Homo sapiens: one gene and its partner. The protein of the gene in region 2 purifies or fractionates together with the protein of the main gene of each other region. This does not show direct contact. Each region holds a gene or a part of one and is shown on either strand. Other genes may lie near its edges.

What was found. The genes of interacting proteins can lie anywhere in the genome.
Region 1: the proteins of PRKCI (region 2) and CD44 purify together in Homo sapiens (affinity purification with mass spectrometry; 3 studies listed by BioGRID and IntAct, with this or other methods). This does not show direct contact.

Annotation. Positions count from the first base shown.
Region 1 is NC_000011.10:35,142,150-35,149,175, reverse strand, and holds part of CD44 (CD44 antigen isoform 1 precursor), read right to left. Parts: intron 1-7,026. UniProt on the Homo sapiens protein: Cell-surface receptor that plays a role in cell-cell interactions, cell adhesion and migration, helping them to sense and respond to changes in the tissue microenvironment.
Region 2 is NC_000003.12:170,218,109-170,225,440, reverse strand, and holds the start of PRKCI (protein kinase C iota type), read right to left. Parts: upstream 3,018-7,332; 5' UTR 2,772-3,017; coding exon 2,671-2,771; intron 1-2,670.

The DNA.
Region 1 (7,026 bases), on a different chromosome or scaffold from region 2:
TTGAGAACATGATTTTAAGGTTTGGGGTCTTTTTATACATGAGGCCAGATTTGGAAGTAAAGGTGTAGACAAAGAGGCAGCCAGACCTATAGGAAATCCAGATCCCCGTTCTACTGGACAAAATACAATTAGCTCTAAACTTCCCCTGCCTTGTGTAACATTTCAAACCTCAAGAAAGATCTCTTTAGACTGAAGAGAGTGCAGAGAACAGAAATTTCAAGGGAGGAGGCGGGTTGAGGATCGCTACAAGTAGCAATAGAGAAAAATGAAAGAAGATTTGTATAGACCAGAAAGAAAAAAAATGAAGAAAAAGAATTAGACAGAACCTATAAAAATCACAAAAGATAAGTAACGGAGATGGCTTTGCTAGCCAAGTCTAGAAACATTATTAATTCAGTAAGCCATCCAAGTGTTTATTGAGCACCCACTATAATTGGGGAACTGTGCTGACCGCTCAGGGCTATCATGAATATGAAAATGTATAGAGGGTTTGGGCTTTTCCCTAAGGAGCTTTTATGCTCACTGGCAAAAGAAAAGAGATAACCATTACATGGCATCCTTTAAACTTTCTCTTTTTAAATGGAGATGTGTTTGTGAGGTTTTTATGAATTTTCAGGGGGAACAATAGGAGAAAGCAAGTCACTTAAGGGAGTCTACAGGAATGTACCTGACCTCTAATGATATTGTAAAGACAACTAGTCTCACTGCAGAGGATCCACTGCAAAAACAAACTCCTTGACAGGAGATTTCTTCCCCGAACTTTTATCCCCTCTTGTGGGTTACCTGAATTCCCCTCCCCCTCTTGCAGGCAGATGTGGGCCCAGTAACTCACTGGTGGCTGCGGAGCTGACGTCAGCTGGTTTCCTGCAAGATGGTGCTTAGTTAGCTCTGTTAGATTCTGGTTTTTTGACTGGATACTCAGCAGAGGCAACATCTGTGATTGGCATGTAGTAGCTACTCATTTAAAGTGTGCAAAGACTAGAGCTGGGGGCTTGGGCAGAAATGCCCTTCTAAGCCAAACGCAGGAGACCAGGTGTTGGCTGCATGGAATTGTTCATTTCTCCCTGGCACCTTTTTTTTTTTTGAGACCGAGTTTCGCTCTTGTTGCCCAGGCTGGAGTGCAATGGCGTGATCTTGGCTCACTGCAACCTCTGCCTCCCGGGTTCAAGTGATTCTCCTGCCTCAGCCTCCCAAGTAGCTGAGATTACAGGCATGCACCACCATGCCCGGCTAATTTTTTTGTATTTTTAGTAGAGACGGGGTTTCTCCATGTTGGTCAGGCTGGTCTCGAACTCCCGACCTCAGGTCATCCGCCTGCCTCGGCCTCCCAAAGTGCTGGGATTACAGGTGTGAGCCACCTTTCCCAGCCCTCTCCCTGGCATCTTAATGTGCATAATAGTGAACACTTGCAAAGGGGCTTTACTGTTATCGTGCTACTATCTTGGAAAGGAAGTGGAAAAAGATGCTGCCTAGTTCCACGATTGGTGTGTGGATCCTCCTAGAAGTCACTGCAGACCTGTTAAGTGTAAAGAGATGCACTAAAATTGAAAAAAAAAAAAGTTGGGGGAAGGGGGCTGGAATATGGGATGAGTCCTCATTCCCAGGAAAAGGCCTGCATCCCTTCCTGTGGACTGAGCCAGATGTTCCCAGGGGGCCTTGCCTCCTCCCTTCCTGGGTGGCTTTTTTCTCAGTGAGGGGTACCCAGAGGAAACTCTCTTGCTCCCTGATGGGATGGTCACATGCTGGGCCAAATAGAAGCCTGGTCATCTGGTTTAGGCTAGGGCTGGAGAGAAGGGCTATAGTATACTTCCAGCTTTTGCCAAATTCCTTGTGCCCTGGATATGTACAGCCCTACTCCTGACAGCCTCTTTTCTCAGAGTTTCTCTCCCTCCCTCATCCATTCTAGCCGGTGGAGAGAAGACCCTGGAACCAAGGGCCTGTAAGGTGAGGGCAAATATTTTGCTGCTATTTGATTGGCTCATTTCCCAGTCAAAGTTCTAGCTGATGGAGAAACACTAATCAGCCACCTTTACCTTTCATCCAGGTGACAAATAATGAAGTGATAATGAACAAACAACTCAATTCACATCCCTTTCAGCCCTATCCTATCCTAATGAACAAACAACTCAATTCACATCCCTCTCAGCCCTACCCTATCCTCAACTTTCCATCACATGGAAGAGAGTAGAGCTTCTATTCAGAGATCAGAATGAATGAGTCAACTCAGAATATGCATTGGCAGAAGTTTCCATTACAACTTCCTCCTCCTTCATTTTTGCAATTCTAACCCCTTCCTCTGACATCATGTTTAAAAGCTCAGTGGATGTTATGACCTCACCCACAACTAGATTCCCAAATGAAGTTTTTGAAAACAACTACAGTACTTCCAGGTACAATCGTCTGGATTTCTAGGGTGCCTCGATATCTTAATATACCAAGAGAAGCACTCTAACATAGTGACAAAGAGCATGAACTCTGTAGCCAGATGTGAGTTTGAATCCCAGCGCCATCACTTATCAGCTGCATGGCCTTGGGCAAGCTACTTAAATTCTCTGTGCCTCAGTTTCCTCATATGTAAAAGACAGATAATAACAGCACCACCTTCATGAAGTCAGTGTTTGGATTAAACAAGGCAGTATATAGGAAACAATTAGAATGGCGCTGGTACATGGTCAACACTCTGTAAGTGTTTGCTATTATTACTAATAGTGGTGAGGGTTCTCAGAAACATAGAACTTGTGCAAAGATGCAAACAGAAAAAGCGTAAGAGCTCTCAAAAACAAATGAACTTTCAGGCACTGCGAAGGAGACTTGCAATGCCACAACAGCAGATGCTCAAAATGACTGGTCTATGTGAATAATCTCTTCCCTCAACCCCGGAGTTTTGCAATTAACCTTTACTTTTAAAAGCTGAAGACCTGAAAGTTTCTGGGACCTGAGTTTTGCAAATCACCTCCTTGGTGACTCAGTCCCTCCCCACCCACCTGAGATCTGTCTGCCCACACTTGCACTTCGCAGGGACACTTACCTCAGGAGGACACACCCAGGCAGCCAGTGCAACTCAAACTCGGGGAGATCTGGCTCTGTGAGTTTCCATCGTTCCCCACCCCCACAAGACCCACCCCCTCATTCTGTGTTTGTCTCCCTGTCTCTCAGGTCTAGCTGGGCAGACAATCTTTGGGAAGACAAAACCTGCCCCAGTTATGGGTAATTTCTGACATCACAAGCTCTGTGGAGAGGAGACACCGTTTGCCATTGCCAAAGTGGCTCCCCGTCGGATGTCAGGATTCCCTACGGATTTGCCCCCGAAGAAGCTATGGTAGTATCTGGTCAGATGACAGCTTGATAATTGCCCAAAGAGACCGACAGAGAAGGCAAGAATCTCCCGCATCTCCCATATAGTACTTCTACTTCTCTCCTCTGCCACCACCTTCCAGAAGCAGACATGGGGGTTGGAGGAGTGTGGGCCTCTCACCCAAGGATCTCAACCTCGTATCAGTATCTCCAAAATAACTAGAACCCCAAGGTGGCTGCTGCTGGGGAGTGTTTTTGTTTTGAGGCTTAAATTTGGGGTTGGTGTCCTCATCTCACTGGCTCCCACTCCCTTCTCAGCCCAACTATCTAGTAACCCTGTCTTTAGCCAGATGTCCCCAGCGGTCACAGCAGGCAGCCACCAAAGCCGCAAACAAACAGATGGGTGAGCTCACTGTTTGGGGTAGACCAAACATGAGGCCTGTGGTGGGCAGTCAGCCAGCCAAGTCAGCCCTGTCCTGAGCAACACAGCCATCACCATGGTTCTCACTTACACATAAATGTATTTGCACCTTAGCCCATACTGACAGCATGCTTCCATATATATAGATATCATGACTTTTATATTCTAGACATTCATTGCAGTTCAACAGTTATGGGTCAATATTACTGGGATCTGGGCCCACAAAAATGAATGTGACATGATCCCTGTTATCAGGGGACTCCCCCAGTGCTGCAGAAGACAGGAGAAGATACATTGGAATTTGTTTTGTTGTGGTTATTTTCCCCTTTAAGGGGCATGAAAGTCTTTAGCATTCTTTGGCATCACCAATTCCCACCACACACATAGATCCTTCAGGCATGTACTTATAGGCATACCTGCAATGTGCATATGTCCACATCCAGCAAACAAGAATCAAACATGTGGCTTATCTTGGTACGTCACCCAGTGGGGCAATTGAGCAATGGAGAGGGGAGGAATATGAAATACTTACCTCCAAAGTACACATGTCCTGAATCAAACATTAATTTAATTGACACCATCCTAGTTAAGGAGTTGTAAAGATGTGAATTTCTTTATGCAAAAAGCATTTTTAAAAAGTGTTTGACTTTCAATTACATTAAGTCATGTATTTATTTGTGGAAAAATATATAAACATTTAGTCAAAATATGCACTAGACATCAATTGGTAGAGTGTTTGCATATTTGAGATCCTGACTCTCCCAGAAAATCTGGAACGCACAATGACTGTATCCATGCCTGGCCAGACTCCAGAACCACAAACTTTAGAAAGCACCCCTTCCGGTTTACTCTGGCAAGTTGGGCTTGCCTCGCAAACCCAGTTGGGCAGCTGTGGGGGGTACACTTAAAAAAAATTCAACCTGCTAAGTGAGTGAAAAGTGGGATTCAAATTTAAGGTAGAAGGTATCAACCTACCCTGCCATTCTAAAGAACGCCTACAACCTTCCCATTAAAGCAGGGACACAAAGGAAATTGAGTCATCGGTTTCTTGCTGTGCAAACCCCAGAATTTCTCTCTGAGGCAGAAAAAGATCCCCTTTGAAAACTACACGGTGCCTGGTAGCATCTGCCACCTGCTTCAGCTCATTCTTTCGCAAGAACCACTTCCCTTTCAGGCTCTTCGGTGGAGTGACCTAAAGCGAAGGTGCCGGGGAAGCACAATTGCAGTTACTCTCTTATCCCCAGCCCCAGCCCCAGCCAGGAGGCAGTGCTGAGGAGGCCCAGGTGATCTCCAACCACCTCCTCTCCATCAGGGGACCCCAGCCTTGAAGCATCTGACACTGCAGGTGGATCCGAAACCTCACTTGGGTGGCCACATGTCACCTAGAGCCACACACTGGGTTTCAGTTCAAGACCCATGTCAGCCTCCTACCCAGGGTCGCACAACCTACTAATGAGCATGTGAGGAGTGGGTCTCTGGGTCTGTGCATGTGAAATGCTTGCCTGGTCAGAGTGAGAGCTCCTGTAATGCTGCTTTCCTAATATTCAGGCAGAGGGCATTGCCCTAACTTGTCCTGTAGACAAGCAACCACCTCTCTCTTTATTCCAAGCCTGTAAATCAGAGCATATCTGGGAGGGCAGCTGGACTCTGATAAGGGATGTGATTTATTTTAGTTACAAATAACTTGGTTGGCATCTCTGATATCTGTGGCCAAACCTGGGGAGAGACAGGCCAGGGCAGGGCAGCCAAGAGTCCACAGCCTGCCGGGGATGGAGAGAGAAGCCACCCATGCAAGAGTTCACTTATGCTGGCCACAGGGGACAGGTAGTGTGGGAGAGCCACGTATAGCTTCCAAAGTCCTCCAGACACGTAATGAATTGAAGGAGCATAAGCATTGGAGTCTAACATGGGAGGATGTTAGATAATGCGGAAATCCCAACTCCACCACTGGATCCTGGGGCAAGTCATGCCATCTCCACAAGTCTCGATCTCTTTATCTAGAAAATGGAGTTAAAGAGAGTGCTAGGTGTATTGGGCTGTTGGGAGGCTTAGATAAGATATCCTGTGCTACCCCCGGCTTCACATCTAGTATAGAGTCAGTGCTCACTGAGCAGTATTTCCTAGAGACTCAGGACTTAGGACCCTGCTTTACACAGGACCATATGGTACCACAGCAGAGCATCAGGTTTTTAAAACTTTGGTGCTCCTGACCATCTAGCGATGTTCCAGGAGGTGCTAGAAGCCCCAGGACAATACAGAGAATCATTGTCGAACACCAACATTGCTATATGGTCAAAAATATATATCATTATTATTGTATTAAACTCAAATTGGGTATATTGTAGAGTAATATATAAAACTGTAATGAGTCTGTAAGGTAGTATTTAAGGTGTGAAACAAATGTTGTTACCCCAGTAGACCACACCCTCCCCACCCACTGCAGGGGGTGGGGTTGAGGCTCCCACAGTCCTCATGATAGAGATACATGAGAGAAATGCCCTGCCCTAATATCTTAACAAGTCGCAGAGAGGGGAAGTCACTAGTCCCTCTCTTTCAGATTTTCTAAATGATCCTTAGAGTTCCCATCTCTGAGTCTATGACAATGAGTCAGGAAATAGTTCCTGAATGAATGGAAGGGAATCTGTCATGAACTAAGAATTTCATGCTGTCCAGCATCCCCTCCTTTGTGGGGAAATTTGGGAAAAAACAAATGGAACATTTTCCTACTGGCTGCCAGCCTCCCACACAAGGACTTGTCACCATGCCTTTGCAGCAAGTAGATGTCCAATGTGTAAATGGGGAATACCTGAATTAGTTGATGCTAGCCCCAACAGAGATGAAGCTTTGCCTCTTTGCTCCTTCACATGGGAAAACACAGCTAAAGTTCTAACTCCCAGCAGGGGGCGGAGTCTCTAATGCTCAATTAGAGAGAAGGGAGCAGAAAGGTGTGTGCCAGCCCTAAGACCCAGGGCTCTCAGACGCTCTCCTCTTTCTCAACACCAGGCATGCAATTCCCAAGCAAAGATCCCCTCACCCAGTCTATCATTGTTGGACATTTGGGTTGGTTCCAAGTCTTTGCTATTGTGAATAATGCCACAATAAACATACATGTGCATGTGTCTTTATAGCAGCATGATTTGTAGTCCTTTGGGTATATACCCAGTAATGGGATGGCTGGGTCAAATGGTATTTCTAGTTCTAGATCCCTGAGGAATCGCCACACTGACTTCCACAATGGTTGAACCCTAAAACTTAAAGTATAATAATAATTAAAAAAAAAGATCCCCTCACCCACAGAGACAAGGAGATGC
Region 2 (7,332 bases):
TTAAAATCAGGTAGGTGTTCTAGTTAGCCAACCTGTTTATTAACTATCCTTGTCCGTGACTCATTTTAGCTTCATCTATATTAATGAGCAGCTGACTATGTAATACCACAATCATCAGTTTAGACTATACAAACACATAATCTTAACATCTAATTTCAGAGGACAGGAATTTGGTACAATTTAGAGTGCTGATATTGTCTTTAAATGAGGCTTGAAATGAAGGTACCATTAGAAAGCTTTCATTGAGCAAAGACCAGTATACAATGGGCAAGAGGTTATTTGCGCCGCAGCAAAATTTCACAGATTTTAAAAGACAATGTTACCTTGAATGTCTTGGAAAAATTGCAGTCAAACACTAAAGAAGCTGTATGTCCTTATTCTCTTCTTTTTAATAACTGGAGCAATAAGCCAAGATAATTTGCTATCTAAATTCATGAAGTACAGCAAGACTTTGATTTCTTCTCAAAGGAGTTTACAATGATTTTCATTTACTAACTGGGCCTATTTACATGTGTCAAACTAATACAAATGGGAAAATAGAAGCACTAATTTCTTACCTTTCATAGACTCATTGGAGAAGATGATCTCAATTAATAAGAATTTATTGAAAGCCTTAGGGCCAGGCGCAGTGGCTCATGCCTGTAATCCCAGCAATTTGGGAAGCCAAGACGAGCGCATCATTTGAGGCCAGGAGTTCAAGACATGCCTGGCCAATATGGTGAAACCCCGTCTCTACTAAAAATACAAAAATTAGCCGGGTGTGGTGGCACATGCCTGTAATCCCAGCTACTCAGAAGGCTGAGGCAGGCGAATTGCTTGAACCCGGGAGGCGGAGAATGCAGTGAGCCGAGATTGTGCCACTGCACTCCAGCATGGGTAACAGAGTAAGACCCTGTCTCAAAAACAAACAAACAAAAATAAAATAAAAGAATAAAGTGAAACATCTCATTCATCAAATTACAGGTAAGGGTTTAAAAAAAAAAAAGCAAAGGAAGCTTTTTTCTCACCTTGCAAAGTTCATGGCTGACCATCCTCAAGTCAAAACAGCTCTTGTGACAACTACAAACTTTAAAAAATATCCACACGTTTCTTGGTACTGATTTAAAATAAAAACCTCCTTAATCAGTTTTACCTGCTTAAACACAAAGTTATCATACTGTCCAATATAACTCCAATAAACTACTCCTGCATACAGTCAAGCTAATAATAAACAGAGGCCAGAGGCTTCATGGCAGCAAATTTAAAAGTCCTTACATCAAGGACAAAAAACCAAACACCGCATGTTCTCACTCACAGATGGGAATTGAACAATGAGAACACATGGACACAGGAAGGGGAACATCACACCCTGGGGACTGTTGTGGGGTGGGGGGAGGGGGGAGGGATACCATTAGGAGATATACCTAATGTAAATGACGAGTTAATGGGTGCAGCACACCAGTATGGCACATGTATACACATGTAACTAACCTGCACATTGTGCACATGTACCCTAAAACTTAAAGTATAATAATAAAAAAAAAAGTCCTTACATCAAATCAATACAACATTTAGGGGCTCAGATTTTCTTTGAAATCAAAACAAGAGAGGTAGTTTGAGAGTTTGCTATCTTCACTGATCCTCTCAGGAATGTAAAAGTATGCATTAAAATTTCAACCTAGCACTGCTTGAGTTTTTTAAAGCAATTTACTTCTACCTGGACAAGCAGTAAGGCAAGCCAAAGTAGCTGGGTTTTCTGTGACTTCTCAGTCTCCAACCTTTATGGTCACACTAACATTTCACGTTTCTAATGCTCCTAAACATAATTATCTCAAAAAAAAATTCAAACCACAACTGAATTTAAAGGAAGGGGGGCACTTTGCGTCACTGATAGAAAATGATTTAACACAATGAACTTAGAACTGGGTTTTTTCTTGTAACCATAGTAAGGGAGTGAAGATCAGAGAATTTAAAACTGTAACTAGGCTAGTCTCCTCACCTTGCAGTATCTCACCCTATCGGGTAGTCGTTGAAACAACACTGAGAAAGAAAGGCTCACAAAATTTTGATTTACACACATGCAACTTAATCTTGACGACACGTAAGTACCCACTGCACGTCCCTGAAAACGCATCGACTTGATTCTTAAATACAACCCCTATGTCTAATATACTGGCAGTGCAGATACACTACGTGAACACAACGGGGATGGAGGTATATCTCAGAGAACCAGAGGCGTTAGGCCTGCTGGTAATCAAAACGGACAGCTAACTGAAGAAGTCCCGTTTTCTATCCCCACAGCAAACTGAGTTAACTAAGGCATCACTTGGAATCCTCAACTCGCAACCCCAAATACACCCAGACTTAAGGATGCAAGGCCCCTACAAAGCTCTCAGGAGGCGAGTCTCTCGTCCACACCAGGTGCACCTACTCTAACCCTAGCTTCCTTCTCGGACCCTACTCTGGCCCCTCGGCTCCCCGCACCGCCATACCTGGGGGCGCCCCCAGTACTGCATCCCCTTGCTTCGCCCCCACCCCTATCACTTCGTCACTCACCCTGAGTCACCGGAGCCGCCCGCCCGCCCAGCCCAATCCGCCCACAACACCTCCAGCCCCTCACCCTCCCCTCCTCCAGGCCGAGTGGAGCCGGCCTGTCCCCTCCCGCCCACCGCCCTGTCCCAGGACACTCACCCGCGGTAGTAGGCTTTCACCCGGACCTGGTGGGAATGGTCCCCGCTGCCGCCGCCTGCGACCGTGTGGGACATGGTGCTGCTGTCCCTCTGGGTCGGCATCTCCTCACTCCCCCGCCTCAACGCTGGAGGCCGGGGGTGCGGGGGGGCGCTTCGGGCGCCGTGGGGGACTCCGCCGCCTGCGCTTGCCGGAGAACCGCGGCCGTCCGCCCACCTACCTGCCCACCTCGCCCGCAGCGCCGACCCAAGGGTCGCCTCGCCGGAGCAGCCGGAACCGCGCGGCTCCTCCCACTGCCCGTAGGCGCCGCCGCCTCTACAGCCGCCCGGGCCCAAGACACCTCCTGCGTCGGTCCCTCCCACTTCGCTCGCTCCAAAGGCCCACATTCCGGGGTAGGGCGGGCGCAACCATCCAGCCAGCTCAAGGAGCCTCAATACCGGGCTGAACCATCCTTACGGGGGCAGAGAAAGGGGACAGAGGGAATGGGAGACGCTGATCATGGCATCAAACACGCCGAGAGGGGTGCTTTCACGCGAGCTGTGAAAGAGACAATGACCAGCTCTAGATCACTAAAGTCTCTTCCCTGCAGGGACAATGGTAGGGACAAATTCTACGACACCTCACCCTAGCCTCGCAACTTGGTCACGTCTGCGGTCGGCCGACTTGGCACCCGGGATAGATTTGCGTGCAGGTTTCTGGGATTTGGAGTCCTCATAGGATTCTGGGACTTGAGGTTCCTTGCGCGTAGGGTGCCGCGCCTTCCCGCTGGTGAAGTCTGTCTCTCCAGCGTGCTCCCTGGAGCTGTCGGGGTGGAAAACCTGGATCCAGCTTGGGCATCTGAAGGTCCTGGAAATGACTGGGCTTCCTCACGTTCTAGACTTTATTAACTGATGAAGTCTCCCTTCTTCTAATTGCATAAATCGTCTGAATTATACATGTCTTTTGGGGGAACAAGAATTTGGTTACCTGCTCAGCATAACCTCTTTTATGGAAATAATTTAATAACATATGTAACAAATATAATAAAGGAAGAAACTCAACCAGAAAATATGATGAAAAACCGATTTTTCTTCTTTGGGGGCCCCCATATCTAGGCCCTTGTAGACTGCCCTTGCATGGAACAAGAGCCCAATGAATACTTACCCAATCAAGTCAGTCAATCCAAGAGCATTTCATTCTGTAAAAACTGGCTTACCAAAGATTAGAAAGAATCGTCCTTGGCCGGGCGCGGTGGCTCAAGCCTGTAATCCCAGCACTTTGGGAGGCCGAGGCGGGCGGATCACAAGGTCAGGAGATCGAGACCATCCTGGCTAACACGGTGAAACCCCGTCTCTACTAAAAACACAAAAAATTAGCCGGGCGTGGTGGCGGGCGCCTGTAGTCCCAGCTACTCGGGAGGCTAAGGCAGGAGAATGGCGTGAACCAGGGAGGCGGAGGTTGCAGTGAGCCAAGACTGTGCCACTGCACTCCAGCCTGGGCGACAGAGCAAGACTCTGTCTCAAAAAAAAAAAAAAAAAAAAAAAAAAAGAATCGCTCTTGTAACCTAGTCTTTGACTTTCCTAGGATCTTGGCTCTGACACATAATTTACACTGCAACTACAGGTAGCATGAATCCAGCCCCTGCAGCAGTCCTGGTGCTGAAAGAGTTGGAATAATCAAAGAAATAGCTTTCTTTACGATGATAAAATAGGCTTGGGGGACTGAGTCATCAGTTATGTGTGACACTTCAGCGTGGTACGACATCCTCCAACTGCTACAGACTTGGATTATATACTCTTACTAAAAATTCCCCTTGAGTCAGGCAAAGTGCTACATGCCTGTAGTCCCAGCCTTTGAGAGGCTGAGGCTGGAGGATCACTTGAGCCCAGGAGTTCAAGGCCAGCCTGAGCAACATGGTGAGACCCCATCTCTTAAACAAACAAAAAAATCCCATTGAAAAACTTGGTATCAGGTTTTTCAGTAATTGGAGACCTGCATCAGCAAGTTTAATACGGAGCGATTAATTATGGAATATATTATAAAATATACGGGCACCTGTAATCCCAGCTACTCCGGAGGCTGAGGCACGAGAATCGCTTAAACCCAGGAGGCAGAGGTTGCTGTGAGCCTCTGAGACTGCACCACTGCACTCCAGCGAGACTCCGTCCCTGGGCAACACAATGCACAGTGAGATCCCGTCTCATTTTTTTAAAAAAAGATAATTCACATGCCATACAACTTACTCATTTAAAGTGTAAAATTTGATAGTTTTAAGTATCTTCACAAAGTTTTGCAACCATCACCTCTACCTAAATCCAGAGTATTTTCAGCACCCTGAAAGTAACTGCATATCCATTAGCAGTTACTCCCCACTCTCCTCAACCTCTGGCAACCAATAATATATTTTCTGTTGCTATGAGTTTTTCTATTCTGAACATCGCTAGTAGCTGGGACTACAGGCATGTGCCACCACACCCTGCTAAATTTTGTGTTTTTTGTAGCGCCGGGGTTTTGCCATGTTGTCCAGGCTGGTCTCAATCTCCTGGACTGAAGCCATCTGCCTGCCTCAGCCTCCCAAAGTGCTGAGATTACAGGTGTAAGCCACCATACCCAGTGAAGGTTTCAGTTTTTTTTAATGTCCTTGCCAATACTTGGTTTTTTTCCCATCTTCTTTATCATAACCATCCTAGTGGTTGTGAAGTGGTATCTCATTACAGTTTTGATGTACATCTCCCTAATGACTAATGATGTTGGGTATGTTTTCGTGTTTTTATTGGCCATTTATATATCTTCTTGGAGAACTATCTATTCAGATCCTTTAATCATTTTTAAATTGGGTTGTCTTTTTTCATTGAGTTGTAAGAGTTCTCTCTTTTCTTTTTTTTTTCTTCAAGACAAGATCTTGCTCTGTTGCACAGACTGGAGTGCATGGCATGATCACAGCTCTCCAACTCCTGGGCTCAAGCGATCCTTCCACTTCAGCCTACTGAGTAGCTAGGCCCATAGGCATATGCCACCACACCCAGCTAATTTGTTTTTCTCGTTTTTGTAGAGACTAGGTCTTCCTATAATGTCAAGGCTGATCTTCAACTCCTGGGCTCAAGTGATCTTCCCACCTTGACTTCCCAAAGTGCTAAGATTATAGGTGTGAGCCACCATGCCTGGCCAGAGCTCTTTATATATTCTGGAAATACATCTCTTATTAGATTATTTGCAAATATTTTCTCCCACTCTGTGCATTATCTTTTCATTTTTTTAATCTTTTCATATTTTTGATGGTATTATTTGCAGCATAAAAATTTTTAATTTTCACGAGGTCTAATTTATTTTGTTGTTGTCACGTATGGTTTTTGTTTGTTTTACTGTGTGCCAGACTATATGTTATATATGTTTTTAGTGTCATGTCTAAGAGGGCTTTGTGTAATCTAAGATCATGAAGATTTACACCTATATTTCCTTCTAGAAGTTTTATAGTTTAAACTCTTACTTTTTAGCTTATGATCCATTTTGGGTTAATTTTTGTGTCTAATGTAAGTGGTCCAAATTGATTTCTTTGCATGTGGATATTCAGTTATCCCACCATCATTTGTTGAAAAGACTATTTTTCTCCCATTTAATTGTTTGCACAATTGTCAAAAATCAAATGACCAAAATTTAAGGGTTTATTCCTGGATTTTAAATTCTATTCTATTGATTGATTTGTCTATCCTTTGACAATAATCACAGTGTCTTCATTACTGTAGTTTTTTAGTAACTTTTAAAACAAGGAAGTGTGAGTCTTACAACTTTTTTTTTTTTCAAGAGTGTCTTGGCTATTCTGGATCCCTTACATTTTCATGTGAATTTTAGGATCAACTTGTCAATTTCTTTAAGAAAGCCAGCTGAGATTTTGATAACGATTGCCTTGAATCTGTGAATCAGTTTGTGTGGTTTTTGTCATGTTAACAGTATTAAACCTTCCAATCCATGAACATGGGATAACTTTTCATTTATTTAGGCAGCTTCAATTGCTTTCTCATTTTCAGAGTATACATTTTGCACTTCTTTTACTCTTAAATATTTTATTCTTTATAATGCTATTGTAAACAAATTGTTTTCTTAGTTTCCTTTTTGAATTATTCACTTCTACTATAGAGAAATGCAGTTGATTTTTGCATATTGTTGATATTGTATTGCAGAACTTGTTTATTAGGTGAATTCCTTAGGATTTCCTGCATATAAGACTGTCATTTTTTTTTTTTTTTTTTTTGAGATGGAGTCTCGCTCTGTTGCCCAGGCTGGAGTGCAGTGGCACGATCTGGGCTGACTGCAAGCTCCGCCTCCTGGGCTCATGCCAGTCTCCTGCCTCAGCCTCCTGAGTAGCTGGGACTACAGGCACTCGCCACCATGCCCAGCTAATTTTTTGTATTTTTAGTAGAGACAGGGTTTCACTGTGTTAGCCAGGATGGTCTCAATCTCCTGACCTCGTGATCCACCCGCCTCGGCCTCCCAAAGTGCTGGGATTACAGGCGTGAGCCACTGTGACCAGCCAAGACTGTCATTTTAAAATACAGATTAAAAAACAAATAAAATGAGGCCAGGTGTGGTGGCTCATGCCTGTAATCCCAGCACCTTGGGAGGCTGAGGCGGGCGGATCACGAGGTCAGGAGTTGGAGACCATCCTGGCCAACGCAGTGAAACCCCGTC